7 linked regions of the Homo sapiens genome follow. The protein of the gene in region 2 purifies or fractionates together with the protein of the main gene of each other region. This does not show direct contact. Each region holds a gene or a part of one and is shown on either strand. Other genes may lie near its edges. The genes, in order: DNM3, MKI67, MAP3K20, KNOP1, ARID3B, OAS3 and NFIC.

Region 1 (3,923 bases), on a different chromosome or scaffold from region 2:
TCCATGAAGCTTCATCTGGATTGTCATATTGCGGTACGCATTTTTAGTCTTCTTCCCTATTCCCCAGCACACAACTACTAAAGTCCTTGGAATCTTCAAAGTGATAAGTATCTTTTTGCAGGCTAATGGGTTGGTAAGTGGCTGGCAGCTCCTGGATAGCTTCAGCAAGTGGACTGGTCACTAGAAAGAACAGATATGACCTCCTAGGAGGGATGAGGGGCTGAAGTTTAAGTTGATCACCAATAGCTAATGATTTAATCAATCATGCCTACATAATGAAGCTTCCATAAAAATCCAAAATGGGCTGGGTTTGGAGAGCTTCTGGATAGCTGGAGATGCAGAGGTTTCTAGAGGATGGTGTGCCCGGAGAGAACATGGAAGCTCCACATCGCTTCTCATACATTGCCCTATGCATCTCTTCATCTGTATCCCTTGTAATATTCTTTATAACAAAGAACTGTTTCTCCGAGTTTTGTGAGCCCCTCTAGCAAATTAATAGAACACAAGAAGAAGGTTGTAGAAACCCCAATTTATAGCCAGTCAGTCAGAGCACAGGGTAAACAACCTGGATCTTGTAACTGGCATCAGAAGTGGGGGTCATCTTGTGGGACTGAACCCTCAATCAGTGTGATCTGATGCTATTTCCAGGTAAATAGTATCAGAATAAAATTTAATCAGAGGATACCTAGCTGATGTCTGCTGCAGAAAAGAATTAATTGCTTGTTTGCAGTAGGGAGAAATCACCACACATCTGGAGTCAGAAGCGTGTTTGAGAATATAGTAGGAGAAGCTGAGTTTGTTTTTTCTACGTGGACTACGTGTGGACTCCTCAGGAATGTGACTGGGCTGAACTCACTAGAATTCACTGATGGTATGACTCTCTCTGTCCCAATCAGACAACCATGGCTCAATCTCCTATGGGAAAGAAGGCTGTAAGACAGGAATGGTTCAGCACCATTTTTATAACTAGATTCCAGTCCCAGTTTATAATCTGACTCTTCCAAGCCACTGACGCTGTAAAGGGAGTCCTGGTGATGGTCCTTACTTGTCATCTGGAGCCTCTACCTGCTTGTTACAAGCCCCAGTTTCAGGGATGGTGGAGGAAACCAAGAAGAAAAAAACAGTTACCATTGCAGAATTCTGGAAAGGCCTAAGAATTGGAGAACCAATGCTAGGGTATAGGAAGAGCTGAAAATAAAAGAATTGGCTGAAGGCTCCTAGAGGACACACCCACATAGCTACCCTTCCTCAACCTCAGCAGAGTACTGAAGACTTGCTTCAAAAGAGGTTGAACCAGAGGGACTCTGGACTCCAGAAGAATTTCAGGAATGCCATCATGAAAGCAGAGGAATTAATTAAAAGTGTACACACTGAATAGTGAGAACCATCCTCCTCCCACTCCATCCCCTGACCCACCAATTCTTGGCTCCAAGAACACTAGACATCAGGCTTATACCAGACCAGCTCAGGAGAAAATACTCATAGAACCTAACAGTTGAGGAAGTCTCCTAACAAAATGGTCAACTCTCAGCACAGTTACTCCATGGGAAAACCCACTGGTCAATGAATCCCTGTCATGTACATAAATCAGCTTTTTGGTGCTCCACTCTCATGCACGAACAAGCGGCAAAAGATCGACAAACATTTGAAAAAGGTCTCTAACATCAAAGACAGAGACAAAAACAAACAATCAGAAAACAATAGATTCAGACAATGTAGATTACAAAAGAAAACCTTCAAAAAGCTCTCACTAAAGTCCTTGGAGGAAGATATTGTATTTATGAAAACAAGAACATGATGCTATTTTAAAAAATAAAAATAAGATTCACAAAGTAAAAATATGCTTTTGGAACCTCTAAAATGAATCAGAAGAGCAGAAGATAAAGTTGATAAAATCTTGCAGAAAGTAGAACAAAAAGACAAAGAAATGATTATAGAAGAGAAAGATTGAAATAAAGGATTCATTTAGGAGTTCTAACATGCTAATAAGAACTACAGATAAAAAGAACAAAGAAATTGGGACAATTAATTATCAAAAAAGAAAAATTCCTAGAACTGAAGAACATGTATCTCCATATTGAAAGGGCACATCATTGAATGCCCTTCCACAATCACTTTAAACAGACACACACCAAGGCCAGCACTGAGGTCTCTGAAGATAAACTGTCGTTATTCAACTTAGAGAAGTAAAAAGTTTAAACATACGCATAAGAAAGGACCTTTTCTGGATATTGAGATGACAATACCAAATAAATCCCTGCTTATACGTACATTTTTTCTCAAATAATTATAAGCTAAATAATATCTTACATGCATTAGAGCTTCCTATTTTAAAGAAACAAGACAAAGTAAAAAACACAAAGGTTTTTCACTGGAAGCATATGCAGGTAACTCATAATAATTAGTAGATTGTCTGAATTCTGCTGTACCAGAAGTTTATTTTACCAACTTTTTAAAATATGCAGCCCATGAGGCTTAGAAATGCCTGTTTTCTTAGATCTCATTATTCTTAGATTTATATAGATTTTGACTATATAAATTTCATTATTTTAGTAAATCTTTACTAAAATTATTTATTATTTTTTAATATTAAATACTGAATTTTCTATTTAAAATACAAAAGGTTTAACAACATTAATAATGGCTAATTTATTTATAATGAAACCAAATCTTAAGAATTTATGTTACCTTTAAAGATACCAAAACTCCTGACACTTTAATTCCTTCTCATCTTAGTAGTCACACACTCACCTTGAGGATCAACTTCTTTAGCTAGCTTCAGCGCATCTGAGTTTGCAAGATCAGTGTTGGCTGGAGTAACAGCTAAAATCAGACAGTTCTCCCTCGTGATGAACTGCATAATCATTTCTCTGATCTGATACTCGATATCTGGTGGCTGATCTCCCACAGGCACTTTAGTTATTCCAGGTAGATCAATAAGGGTTAGATTTAACACTGTGTGGAAAGGATAAAGGAGTCTTACATACACCTTCAATGCTAAAAGATAACAATACAGAATCATTTGTCACTTAGCTCAGCCTTCTACTTTGTGTATCTGAACAACTCCAACCCATGTGTGTAGAATAAAGAGCATAAAATAAAAATGGTTTTGCTAGTTTTCTCTATTTTTATGATATGATTGTGCTATGCCAAATGATCACTTTAACATAATTTGAAAGGCACTGATTTGCATGCCTAACAGTTTGCTCAGAAAGCTGTCATATCTGTAACTAGGGGGTTATAATTAAAACACCAAATGAGAAATGCATATGCTATCTGCCAGTCTTATACATTGCCTTCAAGTGGTATAAAAACTCACAGGGTAAGACTGCCCTTTCCTTAAAAAGTATCATTTTTTTTTTTTAATAGAAAGTTAACCACTTAGCCTAGTAGAAAGCTGTTAGCCATTCGTGGTGCCCTGGGTTTACTGAATCAGCTGTACAAACAGAGTCAGTGACAACATGACTCTAGCCCAACCTCTCCATATAAACAATGTTGGCACCAAGTACCCTTGGGAAGTCATAATTGAGCTTATGTCATTTATATTCTGTTTTAAAAGCAATAGAGCTAAGTAGGGAATAAGAAATGAAAATTTGCCCACTAAAAATTTAGTCAGCATACAGGTTATTTCCCATCACACATTATGGATTGGTTATCTAATTTATAAGTTTCTACCGATAGTCTGGGGGAAAAAGTCAGAGCTGATTTCTCAGGAAGAAAATAAATAGGACTATATATGGCTGCAAGACATCCAATAGGGGAAGATGCAACCATAGTAACATGTACCTCTAAGATTTCAGCAAAGACTGAAAAATGGAAGTTTTCATATATACCCTTCTCAAATTCTAAAAGCTTATAATAAAAATGAAGAAAAAATTTGATGACTAACTCAATTCTGTTTTTATTAAAGTCATCTCCTACTG
Region 2 (3,923 bases):
TTAACCATCACTGCTAAGGCAGAACAGGAAATTGCCATTTCTGGAGTTTCCCCAAACTTCTCTGCATGCAGTGGGAGCCTCTCTATCTAACAGTCCAGACAGTTTCCCCTTCTCAAGAATACACATTCCTTATTGATATTGTTCTGATAGTTAAAATAGTGACATAGATAGGATTTTTAACCCAGTCCTGGTCTTGGTGACAGTATCCAGAACATAGAACTGAACCACCCACCTATCCTCTGATCAATTTTTTAAACATTTGAAGATGAACATTACTCATTTGGCTTTTGAGAAACTCTTCTAAGTTTGCATTAATCATGTTTGACTAGTTCTTTTCCCATATTAGTCTATTCCCTCTATAGGTCCCAAGAAGATTCTTTACCATGGCCTGCAGTTATTCAGTGTTAAAGGAAACCCTCTGGGGAAAGGATAACCACTTATAACGTCAGGTTACATGCAAAGTATAACACAGAAATTCACAACTATCCAAGACGATATTGAGTGATGCTGTAATACTTCCTCTCACCTTATTTTCAGGGACCGAGTCTTGTAATTTGTGTTCCTCTTTGTTGGTTTTCATGTCGTTGCTGTTCAGCTCTTCCGCAGGTTCAATTCTTTTTGCAGAAGTCCTCAAACTTCTCTTCATGATGACCACGGGTTCGGATGATTTGCCTCTTGCCCTGGGAGCAACCCTCTGCTTCTTGCTGGCTGGCAGCTCCTCCACAATTTCCTCTGGTGCTGGCATGCAGCGCAGCCTCTTGGTTCCCGTGACGCTTCCATCTTTGCCACCTCCCCTCTTGAAGGGCAGTGGGGGCAGGGAAGTGTTGCTTTTGCTTTGTGATTTTACAGGGTCTCTGGTGCTTACCACGTCTCCCACGGGTTCTACTTTAGGGGCCCGAAGAACTCTTCTGGATATTTTTAGAGGTTTTCCACTGTCAGGTGTTTGCTTTGGAGCGCTTGTAAAGCTATCAGCAGCACCATTTGCCAGTTCCTCAGTGTGGCCTGGTGTTTGAGAGAGCTCTTGGAAGCTGGCCAGATCTTCCAGGGGTTGGGCCTTTTCCTTAGGTGCTCTTGGCTGTCTCCTGCTGCCAATTACATCTTCTGCGTCCAGCTTCCGCTTTGCAGGTTGCTTAAATGCTTTCGTGCCTTTGCCCTCACCTACCGGCTCTTTGTCGGTGTGCGTGGTCTCCCCTGAGGTTTGTGTGAGCTTGCCAACTGCTAACAGCTCCTCCTTCACTTCTACTTTCTGGGCACGTGTCCTGGGCCGTCTCTTTGAGCTTGTTGCGGTGTCTTCTAGTTCTGGTGATGATTTGCAGGGTATTTTAGTGGTTTTGTCATCAGTCATTGATTCTTCAGTGTGACCTGCTGCTGGGTCTTTGAAGCCAGCTAGGTCTTCTATGGCTTGGGCACTTTCCCTGGGTGCTCTTGGCCGTCTCCTGCTGCCAGTTACACTTGCTGCTGGAGCCGGTGTCTGTTTTGCAGATTCCTTCAATGCTTTGATGCCTTTATCTTCACCTGCTGGTTCTTTGTCTGCATCCGTGGTTTCCCCTGATGTTTGTGTGAACTTGACTGCTGAAGGCTCTTCTTTTACTTGTACCTTCTGCACACGTGTCCTGAGATGCCTCTTTGTGCTTGCTGTGGTGTCTACCACTTCTAGTGGGGGAGATTCGCAGGGTATTTTAGTGGCTTTGCCAGCAGTCAGTGATTCCTGAGTGTGACCTGATGTTTCAGAGAGCTCTGTGAAGCCGGCCAGGTCTTCCAGGGGTTGGGCCTTTTCCTTAGGTGCTCTTGGCCTTCTCCTGCTGGGTTCCTCTTCTACTGGGTTTGGTTTCTTCTTTGCACGTTGCTTCAATACTTTGATGCCCTCATCACCGCTTGCTGGTTCTTTGTGTGTGTGTGTGCTTTGCCCTGATGTTTGCGTGAGCCTCTCAACTGCTGAGAGCTCCTCTTTTACTTCTTTCCTGGGACGTGTCTTGGGGCATCTCTTTGTGCTCGTGGCAGTGTCTGTTAGTTCTGGTGGGGGAGATTTGCAGGGAATTTTTGTGTTTTTGTCAATAGTCATTGACTCTTCAGTGTGACCTGGTGCTGAGAAGAGCTCTTTGAAGTCAACCAGGTCTTCTAGAGCACGGGCCTTTTCCTTACGAGTTCTCAGCTGCCTCCTGCTACCAGTTACACTTGCTGCTGGGTCCAGGATCTGCTTTGGAGACTCCTTAAACGCTTTGATGCTCTTACTATCTCCTGTTGGCTCTGTGTGTGTTTGCGTAGTCTCCCCTGATGTCCGTGTGAGCTTGCTGACTGCTAGGGGCTCTTCTTTCATGTCCACTTTCACCAGGGGTATCTTGAGCCTTTGCTTGGAGCTTCTTGAGGTTTTGAATGACTCTGGCTGTGGAGATTTACAGGATACTTCTGTGATTTTGTCATCAGTCATTGATTCCTCAGTGTGACCTGGTGTCTGGAAGAGTTCTTTGAAGCCAACCAGGTCCTCTAGAGCCTCAGCCTTTTCCTTAGGAGTCTGTGGCTGTCTCTTGCTGCCAGGTAAATTTCCTAGCAGGTCCAGTTTCTGCACTGGAGTTTCCACAAATGTGTTGATATTTTTCTCATCACTTACTGCTGGTTTTGGTGTGTCCATGGCTTTGCCTGCTGATGGTGTTCGTTTCCTGAGTGCTAAAAATTCTTCCTCTACGTCTGCTTTCCTGAGGTTTCTCTTGGGCCGTTGCTTTGTGCTTGCTGGGGTGTCCACTGGGTCTGGTTGTGGAGATTTGCAGGCTATTTTGGTAGTTTTCTCATCAGTCGTGGGCTTGTCAGTGCCTGGTGTCTGGAAGAGCTCTTTGAAGCCAGCCAGGTCTTCTAGAGCCTGGGCCTTTTCCTTAGGAGTTTGTGGCCATCTTTTGCTGCCAGGTAAATTTCCTGGCAGGTCCAATTTCTGCACTGGAGTTCCCATAAATGCTTTCATGTCTTTCTCATCACCTCCTGCTGGTTTGGGTGTGTCCATAGCTTTCCCTACTGATGGTGTTCGTTTCCTGAGTGCTAAGGATTCTTCCTCTACGTCTGCTTTCCTGAGACTTCTCTTGGACTGTGGCTTGAAGATTGTTGGGGTACCCACTGGGTCTGGTTGTGGAGATCTGCAGGCTATTTTGGTAGTTTTCTCATGAGTCGTGGGCTTGTCAGTGCATATTGGTGTCTGGAAGAGCTCTTTCAAGCCAGCCAAGTCTTCTAGGGGTTGGGCTTTTCCCTTAGGAGTTCTTGGCTGCCTCTTGCTACCAGTTACACTTGCTGCTGGGTCCAGTTTCTGTTTTGCAGTTTCCCTGAACACGTTGATGCCTTTATCCTCATCTCCTGGTACTTTGTCTGTGTGTGTGGTCTGTGTGAGCTGCTTCAGGGCTGAGAGCTCTTCCACTATATCCCTTTTCCCCAAAGGTGTTTTGGGCCGCCTCCTTGTGCTTGTTGGAGTGTCCATTGATTCTGGTGGTGGAGATTTGCAGGCTATTTTGGTAGTTTTGTCATCAGTTGTTGATTCCTCAGTGTGGTCTGGTGTCTGGAAGAGCTCTTTGAAGCCGGCCAGGTCTTCTAGTGATTGGGCCTCTTCCTTAGGTGTTCTTGGCCACCTCTCCATCCCAGTTCCATAGTTTGCTGGGTCCAGCATCTGCTTTGCAGATTCCTTAAACGCTTTGATGCTCTTTCCATCTCCTGCTGTCTCTCTGTGTGTCTGTGTGGTCTTCCCTGACGTCTGTGTGAGCTTGCCGACTGGTAGGACCTCTTCTTTCACACCTACTTTCCCCAAGGATATCTTGAGTCGTTGCTTGGAGCTTGTTGGGGTTTTGACTGGGTCTGGTTGTGGAGATTTGCAGGATACTTCTGTGATTTTGTCATCGGTCATTGATTCCTCAGTGTGACCTGGTGTCTGGAAGAGCTCTTTGAAGCCA
Region 3 (3,923 bases), on a different chromosome or scaffold from region 2:
AACCTTAACAACTATCCTCACCTGCTCTTTTCTATAACATCTACTTTGAACACATAATGCTTTCTTCATTAAAAAAATACCTGTGGTTGTTTAAATAAAAAGTCGCTGGAAAGCATACCTCGTATTTTTTCTCTCATTAATGGTGTTTATTTAGAACAAACAGAATGAGAAGAGGTCAGAATTAAATATTAGGTTGGTGCAAAAGTAATTGCAGTTTTTGCCATTACTTTTAAATGGCAAAACTTCAATTACTTTTGCATCAACCTATACAGTCCTGAGTTCTTGTTTATAATTAAATTAGCATCTGTACACTTTTCTGAATGGAATTCTGCTGACACAACATTCTGTGAGGCAAACCAGCATTCCAAGCAAACCTCTGTCTTCAAGACTCACACAGCAGAAGCTGTTTTAAAATAGACTCACTCACTGAAATGGCATTTCTGTTTCCACCAGGTAAGGGAAGGCTCTAGCATGAATGCAGAATTGATATTCCACATCACATGATGGGGTGGACAGGTTCTGCAGAGCAACATCCAGTGTGTAAATACAGAGCAACACTGGAAATGCTCAGTGGCTGGTGGTCGAGTTTGTTTCAGTAAGTGAAATTACTCCATAGGATGGTTTGTTAAGCATTTGTTAAATCCCTCCAAAACCAAACCAAACTAAGCAAAGGTAGGGTCAGCACACAAGTAGAGAGAAAAGCTAATCCACAAAGAGACGTGTTCAAGCCCTTCTACTGAAATGTGGTGCATAGTTTCTTAAGTGAAAAGATTTTTAATAAAAAACACTGAAAATGTGCAGCTCCAGAAAGGTTGACTCAAACTATGTTTAAGAAATGGGGTCAATGTGGAATGTATGAAGAGATTTTAAAATGATACAGGAAAAAAATCCTAAGCTCTCCAAACAGAAGTCACTCTTAACATCTTTTATAGTTTATGTGTGAAAAGGAATTTGTGCTTGGCTACTGGTACTAAGATTGTACTTCATCTCAGGAAAAGCAGAGGGGGGCATTTCACACCAAAGCCCTGGCAACTGTAAGGCTTTGAAAGAAGGCAGCATAAAGTTTGTTTTCATATATGAAATAATGTTGAGGCTAAAAGTTCAATGTATGTATAGTTGTGTCTTAAGGTCAAAAATTTTTGAGATAAGGAAATTCAAACACTTGGGGAGAATTTTAAAAGTAAAAGCACTGTATGTGTGTGGACTCATAAGTGCAAAAATGAACCTCAAAAGTCTTCTAGTTCATATAAATGTGACAAACAATTTAAAAGCTGTAACAGTCTACAATAACTATAACCAACATACATATATACCTAACACCAACAAACATGTTTATATACATTTATATACACATGCACATTAAAGGAGTGGGAGCAGTGGGCTCCTGGTGAGCCACTCTGAACGGTCAAGCCACGTTCCTAAACCACGCTGCTCATCTTCCCAAGCCCTCTTGTTCCAGGGAGGTGCCCGCAACGATGGCCTGCTGCAGAATACAGAGTGGCTTTTTCATGTTTGATGGGTTGTAAGAAACAAAAAGCCAACTATGGCATCTATGAAGACTATGCAACAGAGACTGTAAGTGGCCCTCAAAGCCAAAAATATATATTATCTGGTCCTTTCTAGAAAAAGTTTGCTTGTTCCTATTTCAACAGGACAAAACGAGAGGCCGTTCCCAACAAGCAGGCTAAGAAAAATTTAAATTACTCTCAGGTGGTGTGTGCCTCAGTAAATAAACGTTTGGTTATAAATGAAGGAATGCACTTTCACAAGAGAAAACAATCTTACAAAGAGTCTTAAATTGCTACAAATACCCCATTTTCAGAATATCCCACAGATGAATGTATGATGGTTAGAATGTAGTAACATTTGACATAGGAGACCAGTTTTATAAGCTAGTCTCCTCTGAAACTTATGAGAAATATTTGATCACTGTAATAGCTTATAGTCTTCATTCTTAAGAAACCAGAATCAAGGGATATCAGGTATTGATTTTTTTTCTTTTTTTGGATATCAGGTATTAAGCCTGATGTTACTCTTGCCTTCTGACCTTTAAAATTCTAGCCTTCGGTCAAAAACATATTTCATTCTTGAAATGATTTTTTCAATAGCTAACAAAATTAATCTTTATTAATTTGGTATACATAGGATGTGTTATGATTTACAAAAAGCTAGTCACTGAAACAAGTCCAAAACCTGTGAAGCCAGCATTAAATACCTAGAGACCGAATAAAGAAAACAAAACAAAACAAAACAGGTCTGACAACGTGAATCTCCTCTTGTGTCATTGGCTACCACCTGCAGTAAGAAAACACAGAAGTTCAGGACGAAGAGACAGGCTGATTTGGACCTAAAACAGGCTGCTTCTTTACCCATTACTATGAAAATGCCCTTTTAGGAAGTAATAGTATAAACAGCAGGGCAGTATAATAGTATAAATAGCAGGGCAGTATGAGATGTAAAGACAGGGAATTCCAAAACTATTTTGGACTTTTTAAAGAATACGTAACATTTTAGGGAAAAGTTTATCCTCAACAAAAGGCAACAAATGAATTCCTTCCTCCAGCAAAGAACTCTCCCACTCCACTTCCTTCTCTCTGATAATGCAGGTATAACCTATTCCTCAGGAAATGGCCCATCTCCAAATTCCTCCTCCAGGAGCTTCTGCTCCTTAACGGATTCATTCCTGTGGTCTCTTCCTTGAGCACTCCACCCCCTCATTAGTCTATTCTCTATGTGGCTCTGCTGTGATTCTTATGTAATGCCTTAGAGTCACGCTTCAGATAGTCACTGCTACTCTAAGACTGGCAGCAGACATGGACAAGGTCATCTGGTAAGTGCTAAGTACATTTTCTTTTGGACTTTTAGAAACCGATGAATCAGTTTAATAGTTGAGACTCAAAAGTTTCCTGGTAATTAACTCGCTTGGCAGATCTATTGGTGATTTTATACTGTTTAAGCAATCCATTACAATGAAGTCCTGTTCCAAATGATCCACATTTCCATTGAAATTACAGAGAGAGTCCACAGTCACATTACCACCCTGCAAAAAATCATTCTCACAGGCAAAGCGGAGCCCAACACTATCTCGGATTCCATTTAATTTGTTTCTTGGAAGTGGTGTTGGTTTCTTCTCAACACAGGACAAAATAACTCCGATGATTAAAAATGATTAAACATTTTGGCAACTAGGAAGCGTTCTCCAATGGTGCTGCTTTAGGCATTCCACCAGCAGTACAGTCTCAAATAAAAATAAAACCATGTTAAACTGTATCTCTCTTCTTTTGAGTGTTTGCTTTTTGTATTTCCCTTAGTAAACAAGAAATGAGAAATGAACTCACCACACCATAGGAATATGTGTCACAAGTTTCTGACACAGGGAGACTCTGGATAACTTCTGGAGCCATCCATGGGAAAGTTCCAACCAAGGACATGTGTGTTGTATGGTTATGGAACCGAGAGGCACCAAAGTCACAGATCTGAGAAAACAGGAATCAGTGTCAACTTTCTACTTATTGGCTAATTAAGGGATTATCAGTTACAAAAATCTACATCTGAAATTAACAATTTTTTTAAGTAAAAGAAATAGTCCTACCTTCAATACTCCATCAGCAGCTATAACAACTAAAAAAAGAAAAAAGGATAAATTATGACAATCATCTAATTTGTTTGAGCTGTCTTCTACTGAAAAAAACCATAAACTTCTATTTCTGTCTTCAATATGGGATTATGAAAGGTGAAATCAATGTATTTACAGCATTGAGGATTTTGCAAAAGGGGGCTGACATTAAAACAAAAACTTAATTCCATTAGGTACTGATTAAAAAGGCTTCTGAGACACTTGTTTTATCCAAATGCAGTACTGTCCAGTAAGAAAGGCACAAATTAGTAGTAGTTAGGAGAACCAAATTTTTACCTGGGTTCTG
Region 4 (3,818 bases), on a different chromosome or scaffold from region 2:
AGGCAGGCCAACGTCAGGGTGACCTCTTGGCAAGATAAAAACTATGAGTAGTAAACGGCCGATTCCAGCTACTCAGGAGACTGAGGCACAAGAATCGCTTGAACCCAGGAAGCAGAGGTTACAATGAGCCGAGATCACGCCACCACACTCCAGCCTGCGCGACCGTGAGACTCCATCTCAAAAAAAAAGAAACGAACGGCTGGTTCCTGTTTACACCAGGCACATTCCTGTAGTGTTGCTCAAGGTCAGGAGGGATTTGTTTCTCCATCAAAGGAGGAGGTGCCCAGAAGGCACTCACTCAAATCCAGAACACTGCCTCTTGGGCTTTCCACGGCCTCTCCCATTATGTATCTCAAGGTTGAATCCAGGAAAGAAAGGCAGGACAAGTTCACGTCCTGAGGGAAGTGGCCCAAGTAGGTCCTTGTAGCACATACTTGTCCAACTATTGACCTGGCCAATGCTTGCGGATCAGGGTTCAGAGCCAGGGAAACTGCCTGAAGTGCCTGCCTCACCTCTGCCCAATGGGCAGCTGTGGACACCATGGCCACTTCACCAGCATCCACTCTTCTTGACTGAAGGGAATCACCAGCCTTCCCATGACAGGGGCGGGTGCAGCTATGGGCAGATGACTCATTGCCCAGCAATGGAGGCTTCTGGAAGTTTCCTTGAGACACAAAAAGGCTTTTCTTCCTCTGGAATGTTCTAGGGTCTTGATATGCTGCCTGGAACTGTTACTGCCATCTTTGTACTAGCCTTGATGAAGCCAACACTGGAGATGATGGAGAGAATGCTTCCTTGGCGAGCTGTTGAACCAGGCCCTAATCAGGCCTTCCTGCCACGTGAGACTGAACTTTCTGGCCATCGAGGCCTGCCTGGGCTGGGATGTCTGTAGGAGGCATGTTCAGGCCAAACGATCGTGAAAATGTCCCAGTCAGAACCTGTATTTTGGGATGCAAAAAGCTAGGTGAGTGGAAAGAAGGTGGTCACAGATGGTCACATGCGACTTGGGCCACTGGACCTGGAGCTCTTTGAGGCTTGCTGTAGAGTCCAGGCTTGGAAACGCTGTCCCCACAGCCGATGAGGCAACTTCCCGTGTCATCTCCACACGTTCATCTCCTCCTGGCATTCAATATCCACCTACAGAAGTCACCTGGGATTCTCTTCCTTGTGATAAAAAAGAATCTCATCAGACACATCCCTGGGGCTGGGCACAGTGGCTCACACCTGTGATCCCAGCTCTTGGGGGCTGAGGCAGGAGCATGAGTTGAGTCCAGGAGTTTGGGACTAGCCTGGACAATATAGTGAGACCCCATCTCTACAAAAAATTTTAAACACTAGCTGGTTGTTGTGGTGCACACCCACAGTCCCAGCTACTTGGGAGGCTGAGGTGGGAGGATCACTTAAGCTGGATAGGTAGTGGTTGCAACAAGCCGTGATATGCCACTACACTCCAGCCTGGGTGACAGAGTGAGAGCCTATCTCAAAACACACACACACGTCCCTGGGATCTGCCATTGATTCATTTGCGGGACTAACCACTCTTCCTAAAATGCCTTGTTCAGAATCCAGTCAAAGCACAAAAATCCTACCTCAGCACTTAGGGCCGAAGGGACACCAGTGGAAAAGGCAGGACTGGTTTAGAGGCACATTTCCCAGCAGCAGCAGCTCAGTCACATGTGTTTGGTAACAACTCAGACACCTCTCTGCCTACAGCTGCTCTATGACAGGGGAAAGGAAAAGGAAGGAAAAGGAGTTTGCGATTCTCCGTTCCTCATTCACTCCACTTTTTATCAGAGATGCAGACTTGTCATAAAACTTTTTCCTCCATCTAAAGACATTTCAATCCCCAACGAGGATTCTGGTGGAAATTCCCTAAAGGGGACATTCAGAGTGGCGAATAGTGAACTTAGGGCTTCGGGTACAAAAGTACAACACCCTGCACTTAGTGGCTGGGTGACCCCAGGCAATTTTATTACTTTATCCCTGAACCTCAGTTGCCTCATCTATAAGATGGGGCTAATAATAGCACCCATTTCATAATTATGAAGATTAAATACATTAAGGAAAACACTAGTATGTCCCTAGTACCTGCTAAACACTCAACAAAAGTTAACTGTACATACTGATGTCTCAAACAGGGACGGAATGTTTAACACAGAAAACAGGAGGTTTTAGCACTCACTCGTTCTCCTGGCTCCCGAAATATGAGCTGCCCTGCCCCAGTTCATCCAAGCCCATCAATATAGTTGTCCTCGTCCTTAATCTCCACAGGTGTTCAATGTGAGCCAACTGTCAGATGGCTTTCATTTGCACAACTGAATAAACCATTTATGCCTAGTGTTCCATTACTGGAACGCTAAGCTTATGGGAGTTATTTATATCTTACTGCTCGAGGTCCTCACCAAGATCTGATTTTTTCACAAAAAAAATTTGTAATCTCCAGCATAAATGGAATAATCAAAGCAATTGTGGCAGTTTTGGGGGGACAAAACTCTAGAGTTTAATCTTCCAGCTTGACTGACTTGGAAGCGTTCCTGTCAATGTAAAAGATCTTGTTGGGGGCGGTGGAGAAGCCGAGGCCGGCTCCCCGGCTGTACTTCCAGCTCATGGCCCGGTCGTAGTCCCGCTGCAGATTCTGCTGCAGGCTGTCAGCCGCCTTCTTGCCGAGGGCCATGTTGGGCCTTGCAATCGTGCTGGCGGGGCGGCTGAACGAAGGGGACAGGTTTTTGAAGCCACCCATAAGTCTGAGAAATTTCAGTTTTTGGTCCTCGTTCTCAAAACCAGCAGTATCCCACTGGCCAAACTGGGTTCCCTGTGAGGAGAGGAAAAAGGTGGCTATTTTCCTTGAGTTCAAAGCCCTTTCCTTCCCTTGACCCCCACCCTCATCAGGGAGGGCCCAGCAGATTAGATGGCTGCTGTGTACCAGGCACAGTGCTAATAAGCTCAACAACGGATTATTCCGTTAATCCTAAAGACAGCCCTATGAGAAACACTGTTGTTATTCCCATTGCACAGAGGAGAAAATAGAGGTCTGCAGCTTAGCTGGAGACAGAAACCTAACTAGTGACCCCCAGAATTCCAGCCCAGGTCCAGCCAACACCACTGCCCACCTCTGCACAGAGCTGCCTTTCTGCCTTCCTCCTCCTTTCCTAACTCATGGCACACGGCACAGTGTGCCTCACTTCACAACAGCGCACTCCCCCCACCACCCTACACTAAGCATTTCCCCCCACCTCCCTACACAGTGCACCTCCCCTCCCCCACCTCCCTACACAGCACACTCCCCCACCACTCTACAGAGCACACTCCCCCCACGACCCTACACAGAGCACTCCCCCCACCTCCCTACACGGCGCACATGGCGCACCTCCTCCCACCACGCTACACAGCACACTCTCCCCCTACCATCCTACAAAGCGCACCTCCCCTAACCACGCTACACAGTGCACTCCCCCCACCACCCTACACATCGCACTCCCCCCACCTCCCTACACAGCACACTCCCCCACCTCCCTACATAGCACTTCCCCCACTCCCTATACAGCGCACCTCCCCCCACCTCCCTACACAGCGCACCTCACCCCACCATGCATCTCACAAGACAGCACACCTCCCCCACCTCCCCACAGGGCGCACCTCCCCTGCAACACAGGGCACCCCACAGCCCAGCAGCCGGGCGCACTCACCCAGCAGCCTAACGTTTGGGTGAATTGGAGGGTGGGAGAGGGCGAGTGGGAATCTGAAGTGTGCTTCTCAGAAGCACTGTTTTATGGCGGGAACGGGTGCGGGCCCACAGGGGTAAAAGGTCACACAGCCAA
Region 5 (3,923 bases), on a different chromosome or scaffold from region 2:
TAGAAACCAAGGTGCTGAGGGCTGAAAGGCCCATCTGTTGCAGTCAATTCACCCAAACATGTTAACAAGCAAGAGATACAGCACAAAGCAGCAGTTATGGCCCGTCCCTGTCTCCCACTGGACAGCCATTTTATCACCTGCAGCTGCGGTCATTCGGGGCGGCCTGCTGTGTGCTGCATCCCTCAGAGCTGTCTGCTTCCTCTGTGGGCACAGCCTGCTGTGTCAAAGCTGCTGGCCCCTCTCACAGCCCACCTGGGTGTCTCCGGGCCTTTCAAACTCAGGCTATTTTCTTTCGTTTCTTTCTTTCTTTCTTCCTTGCATTTCCCTTTCCCTTTCCTTCTTTCTTTTGTTTTTTGAGACAAGGTCTCACTCTGTTGCCCAGGTTGTAGTGCAATGGCATGAACTCAGCTCACTGTAGCCTTGACCTTCCAAGCTCAAGTGATCCTCCCACCTCAGCCTCCAAAGTAGCTGAGACCACAGGCGCATGCCACCACACTCAGCTAATTAAAAAAAAATGTTTTTTTTGTAGAGACAGGGTCTCACTATGTTGTCCAGGCTAACTCAGGCTATTTCCAGTGACTCCTGTGATATCTACTGCTTACCTTTCATATTAGCTATGGAGGCCAAGTCCCTGACCTGCTGCTGAGGTCTATGAGGCTTTTCCTTGGTCCCAACTAGCAAGATCTGCCTCCTGTGTCCCCCAGACACTCCACAAGTGACAAGTCACAAATGTCTAAGGGCCCTTGTTCTCACCATTCTGTTAAGAACAAAGACAGCCGGGCTCGGTGGCTCATGCCTGTAATCCTAACACTTTAGGAGGCCGACGCGGGCGGATTACCTGAGGTTGGGAGCTCAAAACCAGCCTGGCCAACATGGTGAAATCCTGTCTCTACTAAAAATACAAAAAATTAGCCAGGTGCAATGGTACATGCCTGTAATCCCAGCTACTTGGGAGGCTGAGGCAGGAGAATAGCTTGAACCCAGGAGGTGGAGGTTGCAGTGAGCCGAGATGGTGCCACTACACTCCAGCCTGGGCTACAGAGGGAGACTTTGCTTAAAACAAAAAAAACAAAAAAAAACAAAAAAAAGACAGGCCAGGTGCGGTGGCTCATGTCTGTAATTCCAGTACTTTGGGAGTCGGAGGCAGGCGGATCACTCGAGGCCAGGAGTTTGAGACCAGCCTGGCCAACATGGTGAAACTGTTTTTACTAAAAAATATAAAAATTAGCCAGGCATGGTGGTGCATGGCTGTAATCTCAGCTACTTGGGAGGCTGAGGCACGAGAATCACTTGAACCCGGGATGGGAAGGTTGCGGTAAGCTGAGATCGACCACTGAACTCCAGACTGGGACTCTGTCTCAAAAAAAGGAACAAAGACAGCAAGCCTCACATGATTAAAACTGTAATCTGAGGCCCAGCACGGTGTGGTGGTTCATGCCTGTAATCCCAGCACTTTGGGAGGCTCAGGCAGTTGGATCACTTGAGCCCAGGAATTTGCTACCAGCCTGGGCAACATAAGGGCCTCGTCTCCACACACACACACACAAAAAAACAGAAAAATTAGCTGAGTGTGGTGGTGCACACCTGTAGGCCCAGATTCTCAGGAGGCTGAGGTGGGAGGATCACCTGAGCCTGGGGAGGTCAAGGGTGCGATGAGCCATGATTGCGCCACTACACTCCAGCTTGGGCAATAGAGTGAGACCCTGTCTCAAAAATAAATAAAATAATTAATTAAAATAAAAGTGCAATCTGCTCCCACCCCTCTTTTAAAATTTTCTTCTTCTTTTTTATTTCTGAGATGGAGTTTCGCTCGTCACCCAGGCTGGAGTGCAATGGTGCGATCTTGGCTCACTGCAACCTCCGCCTCCCGGGTTCAAGTGATTCTCCTGACTCAGCCTCCTGGGTAGCTGGGATTACATCTTCTTTTTTTTTTTTTTAAATTACAGGGATGGGGTCTTGTTACGTTGCCCAGGCTGATCTCAAACTCATGGTCTCAAGTGATCCTCCCACCTAGGCCTCCCAAAGTGCTGGAATTATAGGCATGAGCCACCATGCCCCACTCCCAACCCTCCTGAACCACTCACTCTAGTTCGGACTACCAGATAAGAGTTTTCTAGAAAGGAGATCGCTGGGAATAACAACCTCTACACTATCTTCCTGCCTCAGTCTCTCCTCTCTAGCCCAACTATACACTGCCACGGCAAGTTTCCTGAAAGCCAATATTTTGCCTTCAATAACTCAGCTATATCTACAGACTGAAGCGCTTTTTGGGCAAACATGGCTCTTCAGAGTCTCATGCCAGCTGACCCATCCAGGATGGCCCCTGGCTCTGGGCCATCAACAAGGGTTCTTCCAGCTACACCAGGGCCACATGTGTCACAGCATTTTTTCCTCCACCTCCATGGTTGGGTCTGATACACTAGAGCCACAGCTCTTCTCAGAGCCTTTCTCTGCACTGCAGGCCAGGGTGAGGCCCCAGCACTCACTCCTTTGGCACTCAGTCACAGGAAACAATGCTACCTAACACGGCTTGCTCTCATGTACCTGACTGGAGGTAAGATGATTTTCATAAAAAGTTTTTTTTTTTTTGAGACAGGGTCTCACTTTTTGGCCAGGCTGGAGGGCAGTGGCGCAATGTTGGCCTCCATGACGGCCCCCAAGTCCCCGGCTCGAGCAATTTGCCCACCTCAGCCTCCCAAGTAGCTTGGGACTACAGGCATGCATCACTATGCCTGGCTAATTTTGTTTTCATTTTTTGTAGAGAGAAGGTCTCACTATGTTACTGAGACTCACCTGAGCCTCCCACCTCAGCCTCCCACAGTGGTGGGATTACAGGCGTGAGCCACCACACTCAGCTAAGAGTTTTTCTTGCAGAGGATATTTTACATCTTTATTCTCTTTCTCATCTTTCCATGCCAGAGGGTCTCAACGGGACAATTTTGCCCTCCAGGGGACATTTATGACATCTAGAGACATTTTTGGTTGTTGTGACTGAGGGGCTGATATTGGTATCTAGTGGATAGAGGCCATGGATACTGCTAAACGTCCTACAGTAACCAGGTGCGGTGGCTCATACCTGTAATCCCAGCACTCTGAAAAGCCGAGGTGGGAGGATCACTTGAGGTCAGGAGTTCAATACCAGCCTGGGCAACATAGTGAGACCTCATTTCTACAGAACAAAAAAGTTAGCCAGGCATGGTGGTGCCTACCTATAGTCCCAGCTACTCAGGAGGCTGAAACAGGAGAAAGGCTTCAGCTCAGCACTTTGAGGCTGTAGTGAGCTATGATCGCACCACTGCACTCCAGCTGAGGCAACAGAGTGAGACCCTGTCTCAAAATTAAAAACAAAATCCTACAGTGCACAGGACAGTCTCCACAACAAGGACTACCCATCCCAAAGTCAACAGTGCTGAGGCTGAGAAACCTTTTATTAAAGTAACAAGTGGCAGACAGAACCGTTTCCCTTCTGTTGGTAATGCCAGCAAACAGTGAAATACCTGACGTAAGTGCTGAAGACAGGACAAAGATTTACTCAGGACCTGAAGAATCATAAAGTGACATTATCAAAGGGAGTCACTCACTCCTGCTTTGGGTTCACTCAGAAATATACTAGATGGCAATCTGGCAGTCCCAGTTGCCACAGAACAGCAGGATATGCAGCAAAGACTGTTCTCTACTGCTGACTCTCAATTACGGGGCAGCTGGCTGAAGGACACAGATGCACCCAAACCTCAAGGCAGCTTGAATACCCTGCATGTTGCAATCTGAGCCAGGAAAACCAACAAGACTGCTCACACAGCAAACATGTCCTGAGCACCTTCCTGCCTGGCCCTGTGCTAGCACTGGGGACATGAAAGAATGACAAAGTGGCCCTCCTTGAGGAGCTCCTAGTCTAGTGGGGACATATAGTAGTAAACAATTAC
Region 6 (4,701 bases), on a different chromosome or scaffold from region 2:
TTCATACTTGGATTGGGACTTATTCCAGCAATCTCCTGGTTCTCAGCCTTCTGAATTGGTCTGAAACTACAACCACTGGATTTCCTGAGTCTCCAGCTTGCAGACGGTGGATCACAAAACTTCTCAGACTCCATAATCACACAAGTCAAACCCTCATAATAAATCTCTTTATATATCTCTTCCTCTATTCTAATGGTTTGGTTTTTCTGGAGAACTCTGATTAATACAGCACACAGATGCTCCTTGACTTATGATGGGGTCATCAATTGTGGATCGCCTTTTATACGTAAGAAAAATGAAAACATATGTCTGCACAAAATCTCATACAAGAGTGTCCATAGCAGCTATTAGTCATAATAGCAAAAAATGCAGCAAAATAGCAAAAAAGTGGAGAATATCCAAATACCTATCAATGGAAGAATGGATAAACAAAATGTAGTCAATTTATGCAGTGGAAATGTCTTTCGGAAATAAAAAGGAATGAAACCTCAACATATACTATAACATGAATGAATCTTGAAAACATGTTAAGTTAAAGAAGCCAGACACAAAAGGCCACATATTGTATGATGCCATTTATATGAAATGTTGGCAATAGATGAAATACACAGCAGATTGGTGGTTTCTAGGGATTAGGGAGAGAATGGGTTGGAGGAATGGGGAATGACTGCTAATGGGTTTCAGGGTTTCCTTTTAGGGTGATGAAAATGTCTGGAATTATTATGATGAATGCATCTGTGATATGGCTCTAGTTATGAATATGCTGGATATAAGTCTTATGAATAGACACCAAGTATAAATCTTATGAATATACTCACACCACTGAATTGTACACTTTAGAAGGGTGAGAGCTTTATGGTATTGACTTGTATCTCAATAAAAACTTTTTAAAAATTAAACACACACACACACACACACACACACACACACACCAATTTCTTTGCAGTCCTGCATTTCTTAGGATTCAGTTCTGGACTTGGTCTTCACTTTCTCTGCCTTCTGGCTGCAAGAAATGCAACCCTCTTTTACCACCAAGGAGGCCCTCTGGCTCTCTCACTTAGCTTTCAATTGCTGATTGATTGCATTTAGCTTTTTACTACTTTTTTCCCCAGAGTCTTGGAAAGAGCCACCTAACTGCATTGGTCTATTTACGTACCAGCGCCATGCTGTTTAAGTATCAGAGGCTTCATAGTATGTTTTAATATTGGCTAAGACTAGGCCCTGCTCAGAACTCTTCTTTCCCTGTGTTTTCCTAGCTATTGCGTGTGTATTTTTCCATAAGAACTTTAGCGTCAACTTACCTGGTTCCATCGAAAAGCATATGTGGGTGTTTTTAGGGTGACCATTAAGCCTATCAATCAACTCAGGGAGAACTGACATCTTTATGCAGTCAAGTCTTTCCATCCGAGGGTGTGGCTAGACCGGGAAGCCCCCAAAAGTTACAGTGGGGCCAATATGCCAACACCAGGGTGGCCATTGCCAAAGACTGAGGGCCTGGAATGAAATACACCCCTGTTCAGATGAGCAAGCCCTCCTCTCTGCCCTACCCAGATGACAACCTCTCCTTGTATCATGCACCTGAGTTGCTCTGGTTCCCACCATCTCATAATTACTCTAATTCTGGAGCCATTTTGCGGGGAGGCCCAGAGTCTGTGTGGTGGGAATGGAAGGTACCCAACTGCGACCTGCCACCTGGTCTTCCCAGGAGCATCACTGGCTTGTGATGCCCAGGCCAGGGCCACTCTGCTGCTGGACAACTTGGCAGAGCAGGTCTCTGCTGCCCACCAGAACTGGCCCTGAGCTCTTGGATATGTGTGTGGCAGCAGCCAGGGCCAATCCAAGAGGTGGAGTTTGGGGTCCTGAGAGTTCTAGCTTTGGATTACCAGGCAGTATCGATGAGGTGAGTCTAAGAAGGTGCCCTTAGCGTTGGTTCAGCACCAAGATGGGGGACAGGGATGGAGGCTGTCAATATGGCACAGGTATTAGAAGCCCTGTCCTCTGTCCCTTCACCTACTCTAGTCTCTGTAGGCTGAGCCAAAGACGGCAGAGAACAGGTTCTAGGTGAATCAGAGGAGCTTCCCTTGGTTGCTCACCTCTCTCCAAGAATGACAATAATGAGGGAAGGCTCTTCCCATCCCATTCAATCTAGCATTCCTAGCAGGTAAGTTTTAACAGTGGTTTGTGGAGAGTCAGGCTGTCTAAGGCACTCCTGTGGAGCAGAGAAGGGATGTTCAGTGGCTTCCTTTCTTTGTTTCCTGTTCCTTCCTCTGAGATAGACCCACTCCCTCATCCACGCAACAGATGGCCAGGATGCATCTGCTGGGGACTCCGCCCCCTGGCACTTGGCACCCATTCAATCATACATGTCTCAGACTCCTCTGCAGCCAGAGGTCTGGCTGTAATTTAGATTCTGCTAAGAAAGGGAGGTGGGATCCGTCTTCCCGCAGCTCTGGCAGCTGGCCATCCCTGATGGATGTTTGTGGTTGCAGGAATCTAACCTAGGTCTCGACTCCAGTTTTGTCCATGTGGGGCAGTGATGGCAGGGGTAGTGGTGGCATTAGCAGTAGCAGTGGCTGCTCTCTGGCCTCTGATTCGGCTACAGTGGTCTAATATTGAAACCAATAGTCCAGTGGTGGCCTCTGCCTTCTGCTCCTCCAGCCTTTCCAGTGATTTAGATAAAATCCCTTTCTGCCTAAGATTCCTAGAGTGCTTTCTGTTTTCTGGGCTGAACCTTGACTAGTGTGGACACTGTTGTTGGACTTGAGGTCAGGAGAGCCTCCTGGATGGACCTGGTGGGCCTTGCTCTAGAGGGCAGAGAGAAACAGGCTGAGCACGGTTGTTTGGCCACTGGCTCAGTTTAGGCTGTGGGGATGCAGAATCTCAGCATGTTAGGAGAGAAAACAGGGACCCAATAAAAATTCAGGAAGGCAAACTGAGCCACAGCATCAAGATGTGTAAACTAGGGGAGGAGTGCAGCATAAAAGGTGAAGAAAAGGAGGCCTCTCATGAAGAGGCATCCAATTAGGTGTCCAACAAGAGGGTCCCCATAGCATGCATGTCCCAACTCCCTCTGTCTGTGTCTGTGGCAGACAAAGTAAGCCAATATGGGCATGCTCTCCTGCTAGCAACCGAGCTCAGAGGGCTCTTCAATAGCCCACATATACACTGTAAACCTGCAAGCACCTTCTTTTTTCCGTATCCAGTGCAGACATTGCTAATCAATCATGGCACTTGTACCACCACTTTCCTCTACTGCATCCATGGCAGACATCACTAATTGATTAGATAATTCTTCTCAGCTAATTGGCCATTCTTTAAAACCCTTCAGAAGATAAGGCTCCAGGTAGCCAGTACCAAATGACTGTGGCTGACAGATGAGATGGGAACTCTCTGCCATCCCTATATAAACTATTTAGATTTGGCAAGGAGAGGCCAATGGGAGGAAGGGATGGATTGCAGCAGGAGGAAAGATGTGAGCTAATTTGCATGGGCAGAGAGGAGTCAGGGAGGAGGGGGCATTCTCAGCTGGGTGGGAAGCAGCAGTGGTGGTATGAGGATAGAGTCATGGAAGTGACAGAGAAGCTGCAAACGCAGGCTGGTGTCAAACCATGGAGTCTGGATCCTAGTGTGTAAGCCATGGGAGGCAGGGGAGTGTGTGAGCTGGGAGAGCAGATTCACTAAAACACACACATGCACACGTGTGCACACACATGCACACATGTGCTCACACACACATGTACACAATCTCTCTCATCTGGTAGGGGACCCTGAATTTCCTCATGCTGAGGGCTGGTGTCCATCTTCTCTTCATCCAGTAGGACCGCTGATTTTCTCAACTTCACACAGCAGCCTGGGGAAGTATTATAAGAGATGTTGGTAACCCCATTCTTTCTGCAGAAGCTGAGACCACACAGCCGGATGGGAAAATGGAAGCACAGGGGCATACCTGGGGCCATCACTGGGCCCTGCCCCTTTAGTGGGAATCATGTCCCTCCCCTGACCATGCTCCCCCCTTACCCCTAAAGGGTACTTCCTTTGGCACCACAGATCTCTCACCTTCACTGGCCATGGCTGGATGGGGATGCCATTCCGTCCCATGCAGCACAGGGCAGATGTGCAGGCTGCAGCTTCCTTGGCCAGCAGGTCCCAGCGGGCATTGTGGCCCAGGTTGCCTGTCGGGTCAGCCGGATCCAGGATGATAGGCCTGCAATTCCCACCCAGGGACAGTCTTATTCCTGGCAACATCTAGGTGTCCACCTGTGGCACTGGTTGGACTATTTTCCCCTTTTATCTAACACTTTGCAGGGGCTAGAGCCAGGGCTCAGAGATTCCTCAGTGCTCCTATACACTACAGGGCAGGTATAGAAAATAAGACACACATGGCCACTTTGCCATTCTGCATTCAGGCAAACATTACTAATCAACCACGGTGCTACCGCTTACCCCTTCCTTATTCAGGGGAGGCATTGTTAATCAATCACAACACTGGTTCCACAACTCTCCCCTCCTGCATCCATGATACAGGTTGAGTATTTCTTATCTAAAATGCTTGGGACCAGAAGTGTTTTGGACTTCAAATTTTTTCAGATTTTGGACCTTTGCCTTACTTACCAGTTAAGAATCCCTAATTTGAAAATCCAAAATGCTCCAATAAGCATTTTCCTTGAGCATATTTTTTGGTGGTCAAAAAGCTTCAAATTC
Region 7 (3,923 bases), on a different chromosome or scaffold from region 2:
GCTGGGCTGGTGACCTGTGTGGGTCTGCGTCTGGCGTACACCCATCCCACATGCTCTGGCAGCCCCTGGGTGTGTGGGGGTTCACGCGTGCTCCAGACACGGCCTGGATGGGCATGGCAGGGGTGTGCTGTGCACCCACTCAGGTCTTGGGATGCAGCTGACACCTCGCACGTGGCTACACGCATGATCTTCTGGAACCTCCCATAGCCCCATCCAGCTACAGACTGATCATCTCCACCATTTGGCAGGCAAGAGAAACTGAAGTCCAAGAGGGCCACGCAGCCAAGAAGCTGCAGGACCAACCCTGCTCTTAGCACCGGGACCAGAGGCACAGGCATCAGGCCTCTCATCTCCACGCTCCTGCCAGGACCCCTGGGGCATCTCCTTGTTCACTGTGGCCTGGCCATCCTGCAGAGCTGAGCTCAGCTGCACCTCCTCCTCTGGGAAGCCGCCTTGGATTTCCTCAACCCCACAGAGCTAGCTGGTCTCAACATCAGGCATTTGACCACCGGCAAACACCCCTCTGGCAGGGCCAGGCTCATCAGGCCTCTGCTGGCATGGTCTGAGAGTCAATCAACCAACAAGCATTCACAGAAAGCGGTGCCAGGACTCTCTTGGCTCTCCTCGGAGGGCTGGGATGGCCTGTCCCTCTCCTCTCCTCACCCCTGCTCCCAGCAAGGCCGTCCGTTGTGCCCAAGACCATCTAGGACATTCTCATCCCCCTGAGACCTCAAGGGCCTTCCTGCCTCCTCCCTCAGACGTGAGGGTGAGATCCTGCCTCTACCATTGGAGCGCCACAGCCCACCTGCCTCCTCTGTCAAAAAAACCTCCTTGTACCATCTCTCACTTGAGACCTCTGCTAGGCCTGCCTCCTCCATCTGACCTCCACATCCCATCAGCAGCCACCCTGGGCCCTGCATGCACTGGCCTCCTCCCTCAGACGCTCCTTGCACCATATCACTTGCATTAGACGCTCTCCTAGGCCTGCCTCCCCCCTCAGACCACCACATCACATCTACACATGCTGGCTTCTTCCCTCAGACCCTCCTTGCCCCGTGTCACCCGGCGTCAGACGCTCTCCCAGGCCCGCCTCCCCGCTTGGACCACCACATCACATCTACACGCACCAGCCTCCTCCCTCAGACCCTCCTTGCACCATGTCACCCCCATCAGATGCTCTCCCAGGCCTGCTGCCCTGCCTGGACCACCACATCACATCTATATGCACTGGCCTCCTCTCTCAGACTCTCCTTGTGCCATATCACCTACTTTACATATTCTCCTAGACTCGCCTCCCCTCTCAGACCACCACATCACATCTATACCCACCAGCCTCCTCCCTCAGATGCTCCGTGCCCCGTGTCGCCCCCATTGGGCACTCTCCAAGGCCCACTTCCCCTCTCAGACCACCACATCATACCCACACGCACTGGCCTCCTCCCTCAGGCCCTCCTGGCCCCGTGTCACCACCATCAGACACCCTCCCCGCTGGCCGCTCCGCTCAGGCCACCACACCTCACCTCGCTCACGCACGAAGTAGGCCAGGTAGAGGTCCAGCTCCTTGACGGCCACGCCAATGTGGTGCGGCTGCACGCACAGGACCGGGTGACCGCACTGCGCAGCCTTGACCAGGCGCTCGCCGTCGGTGCTCTCCAGCGGGATGCCCTTGAACAGGATGACCATGACCAGGTCCAGCCGCCACACCTTGTCCGCCTGCCGGAGACAGTCGATGCGCCGCATCTTGCCCTTCTGGTCGGGGTTGGAGAGCACGCAGCCCGGCGCCTTCTTGCCGGTGATGCTCAGCACGAAGTCCTCGCGGCACTCGGGCCGGATGTCCTTGCGCAGCTTGGCCAGCAGCCGCGACGCCCACTTCTGCTTGACCTCGGGCTTCTCGCCCAGCAGCTCGTCCTTGACCGCACGCTCCTCGTCCTTCGACATCCGCTTCTCGTGCTTCTTGAAGTACTTGCGCTTCCGCGCCTGCAGGTTGAACCAGGTGTAGGCGAAGGCGCGGACGTGAGGCAGCAGGGCCTCGATGAACGGGTGGAACTCATCCTGCAGGCCGGAGAGGCGAGAGGTCAGGAGCGCCAGGGACGCAGAGGGCGGACCCACTGCCCGGCCCCGAAGGCTGAGGTCGGAGGGGCCCTGAACAGACCCGCAGAGTGGGAGGGGCTGGGCAGAGGTGGGCAGGGGGTCGCTGCGGACCCGTGCACGCCGCCGGAGGCACGCAAAAGGCCCGGGGGACCCAGGAGAAGTTTATCAGGGACCTGCAAGAACCCATCGCCCAGATGAGCAAACAGACTTGGACTATGTGAGAGGCACAAATCAAGGCGGAAGTTTGTGGAGGATCATTTTTTTTTTTTTTTTTTTTGAGACGGAGTCTTGCTCTTAACGCTAAGGCTGGAGTGCAGTGGCGCAATCTCGGCCCACTGCAACCTCCACCTCCCGGGTTCAAGCGATTCTCCTGCCTCAGCCTCCCGAGTAGCTAGGATTACAGATGCCCACCACCACGCCCAGCTAATTTTTGTATTTTTAGGAAAGATGGGGTTTCACCATGTTGGCCAGGATGGTCTCGATCTCCTGACCTCTGATCCGCCCGCCTCGGCTCTCGGCCTCCCCAAGTGCTGGGATGACAGGTGTGAGCCACCATGCCCAGCCGTGGAGGACCTATGTTGAACCCCAGCATGCAGATGGAGCAAGCTAAGGGGGCCAGGTGGAGGCTCATGGACAACCCATTGTACAGACGGGTAAAACTGAGGTTGGGAGAACAAAGATGTCAGGGACCTATTCTCTGCCTATTGCAGCTAGGGTTGGGCTGGGTGTAATGGCTCACACTTGTAATCCCAGCGCTTCGGGAGGCCGAGGAGGGAGGACTGCTTGAGCCCAGAAGTTTGAGACCAGTCTGAGCCATATGGTAAAACCCCATCGCTACAAAACAAATGAACAAACAAAATCAAAAAAACAAAAATTAGCCAGGTATGGTGGTTTGCAACTGTAGTCCCAGCTAGTTGGGAGGCTGGGGTGGGAGGATCATTTGAGCCCAGGAGTTTAATGCTGCAGTGAGCTGTGATGGTGCCACTGCACTCCAGCCTGGGCGACAGAGCAAGACTGTCACAAAAAAAAAAAAAAAAAAAAAAAGCCTGGGCGCAGTGGCTCACACCTGTAATCCCAGCACTTTGGGAGACCGAAGCAGGTGGATCACCTGAGGTTAGGAGCTTGAGACCAGCCCGGCCAACATGGCAAAACCCCGTCCCTACTAAAAATACAAAAAAATGTAGCCAGGCATATTGGAGCACACCTGTAATCCCAGCTACTCAGGAGGCTGAGACAGGAGAATCGCTTGAACCTGGGAGGCAGAGGTTGCAGTGAGCTCAGATTGTGCCACTGCACTCCAGCCTGGGAGCCTGGGTGCCAAGAGTGAAACACTGTCTCAAAAAAAAAAAAAAAAAAAAAAAAAGAACAAGGCTGGGCACGGTGGCTCACGCTTGTAATCCCAGCACTTTGGGAGGCCAAGGCGGGCAGATCACGAGGTCAGGAGATTGAGACCATCCTGGCTAACACAGTGAAACCCCGTCTCTACTGAAAAAAAAACAAAAAAATTAGCCGGGCGTGGTGTCGGGCGCCTGTAGTCCCAGCTACTCAGGAGGCTGAGGCAGGAGATTGGCATGAACCCGGGAGGCGGAGCTTGCAGTGAGCCGAGATTGCGCCACTGCACTCCAGCCTGGGCGACAGAGCAAGACTCCATCTCAAAAAACAAAACAAAACAAAAAAAAACTAGGGTCGGCGGCCAAGCATGGTGGCTCACACCTGTAATCCCAGCACTTTGGGAGGCCACAGTGGGTGGACTGCTTGAGCCCAGGAGTTCAAGACCAGCCTGGATGACATAGCGAGGCCCCGTTTCTACAAAATCAAAACTTAGCTAGGTG

The links.
Region 1: the proteins of MKI67 (region 2) and DNM3 purify together in Homo sapiens (affinity purification with mass spectrometry; one large-scale study listed by BioGRID and IntAct). This does not show direct contact.
Region 3: the proteins of MKI67 (region 2) and MAP3K20 purify together in Homo sapiens (affinity purification with mass spectrometry; one large-scale study listed by BioGRID and IntAct). This does not show direct contact.
Region 4: the proteins of MKI67 (region 2) and KNOP1 purify together in Homo sapiens (affinity purification with mass spectrometry; one large-scale study listed by BioGRID and IntAct). This does not show direct contact.
Region 5: the proteins of MKI67 (region 2) and ARID3B purify together in Homo sapiens (affinity purification with mass spectrometry; one large-scale study listed by BioGRID and IntAct). This does not show direct contact.
Region 6: the proteins of MKI67 (region 2) and OAS3 purify together in Homo sapiens (affinity purification with mass spectrometry; one large-scale study listed by BioGRID and IntAct). This does not show direct contact.
Region 7: the proteins of MKI67 (region 2) and NFIC purify together in Homo sapiens (affinity purification with mass spectrometry; 2 studies listed by BioGRID and IntAct, with this or other methods). This does not show direct contact.

Annotation. Positions count from the first base shown.
Region 1 is NC_000001.11:171,987,977-171,991,899, reverse strand, and holds part of DNM3 (dynamin-3), read right to left. Parts: intron 2,956-3,923; coding exon 2,752-2,955; intron 1-2,751. UniProt on the Homo sapiens protein: Microtubule-associated force-producing protein involved in producing microtubule bundles and able to bind and hydrolyze GTP. Most probably involved in vesicular trafficking processes, in particular endocytosis.
Region 2 is NC_000010.11:128,102,053-128,105,975, forward strand, and holds part of MKI67 (proliferation marker protein Ki-67), read right to left. Parts: coding exon 527-3,923; intron 1-526. UniProt on the Homo sapiens protein: Protein that associates with the surface of mitotic chromosomes and acts both as a chromosome repellent during early mitosis and chromosome attractant during late mitosis.
Region 3 is NC_000002.12:173,190,593-173,194,515, reverse strand, and holds part of MAP3K20 (mitogen-activated protein kinase kinase kinase 20), read right to left. Parts: intron 3,622-3,923; coding exon 3,593-3,621; intron 3,477-3,592; coding exon 3,339-3,476; intron 1-3,338. UniProt on the Homo sapiens protein: Stress-activated component of a protein kinase signal transduction cascade that promotes programmed cell death in response to various stress, such as ribosomal stress, osmotic shock and ionizing radiation.
Region 4 is NC_000016.10:19,704,410-19,708,227, forward strand, and holds part of KNOP1 (lysine-rich nucleolar protein 1), read right to left. Parts: intron 2,813-3,818; coding exon 2,501-2,812; 3' UTR 1-2,500.
Region 5 is NC_000015.10:74,575,326-74,579,248, reverse strand, and holds part of ARID3B (AT-rich interactive domain-containing protein 3B), read right to left. Parts: intron 1-3,923. UniProt on the Homo sapiens protein: Transcription factor which may be involved in neuroblastoma growth and malignant transformation. Favors nuclear targeting of ARID3A.
Region 6 is NC_000012.12:112,969,111-112,973,811, reverse strand, and holds the end of OAS3 (2'-5'-oligoadenylate synthase 3), read right to left. Parts: intron 4,205-4,701; coding exon 4,057-4,204; intron 3,851-4,056; coding exon 3,839-3,850; 3' UTR 561-3,838; downstream 1-560.
Region 7 is NC_000019.10:3,379,841-3,383,763, reverse strand, and holds part of NFIC (nuclear factor 1 C-type), read right to left. Parts: intron 2,053-3,923; coding exon 1,521-2,052; intron 1-1,520.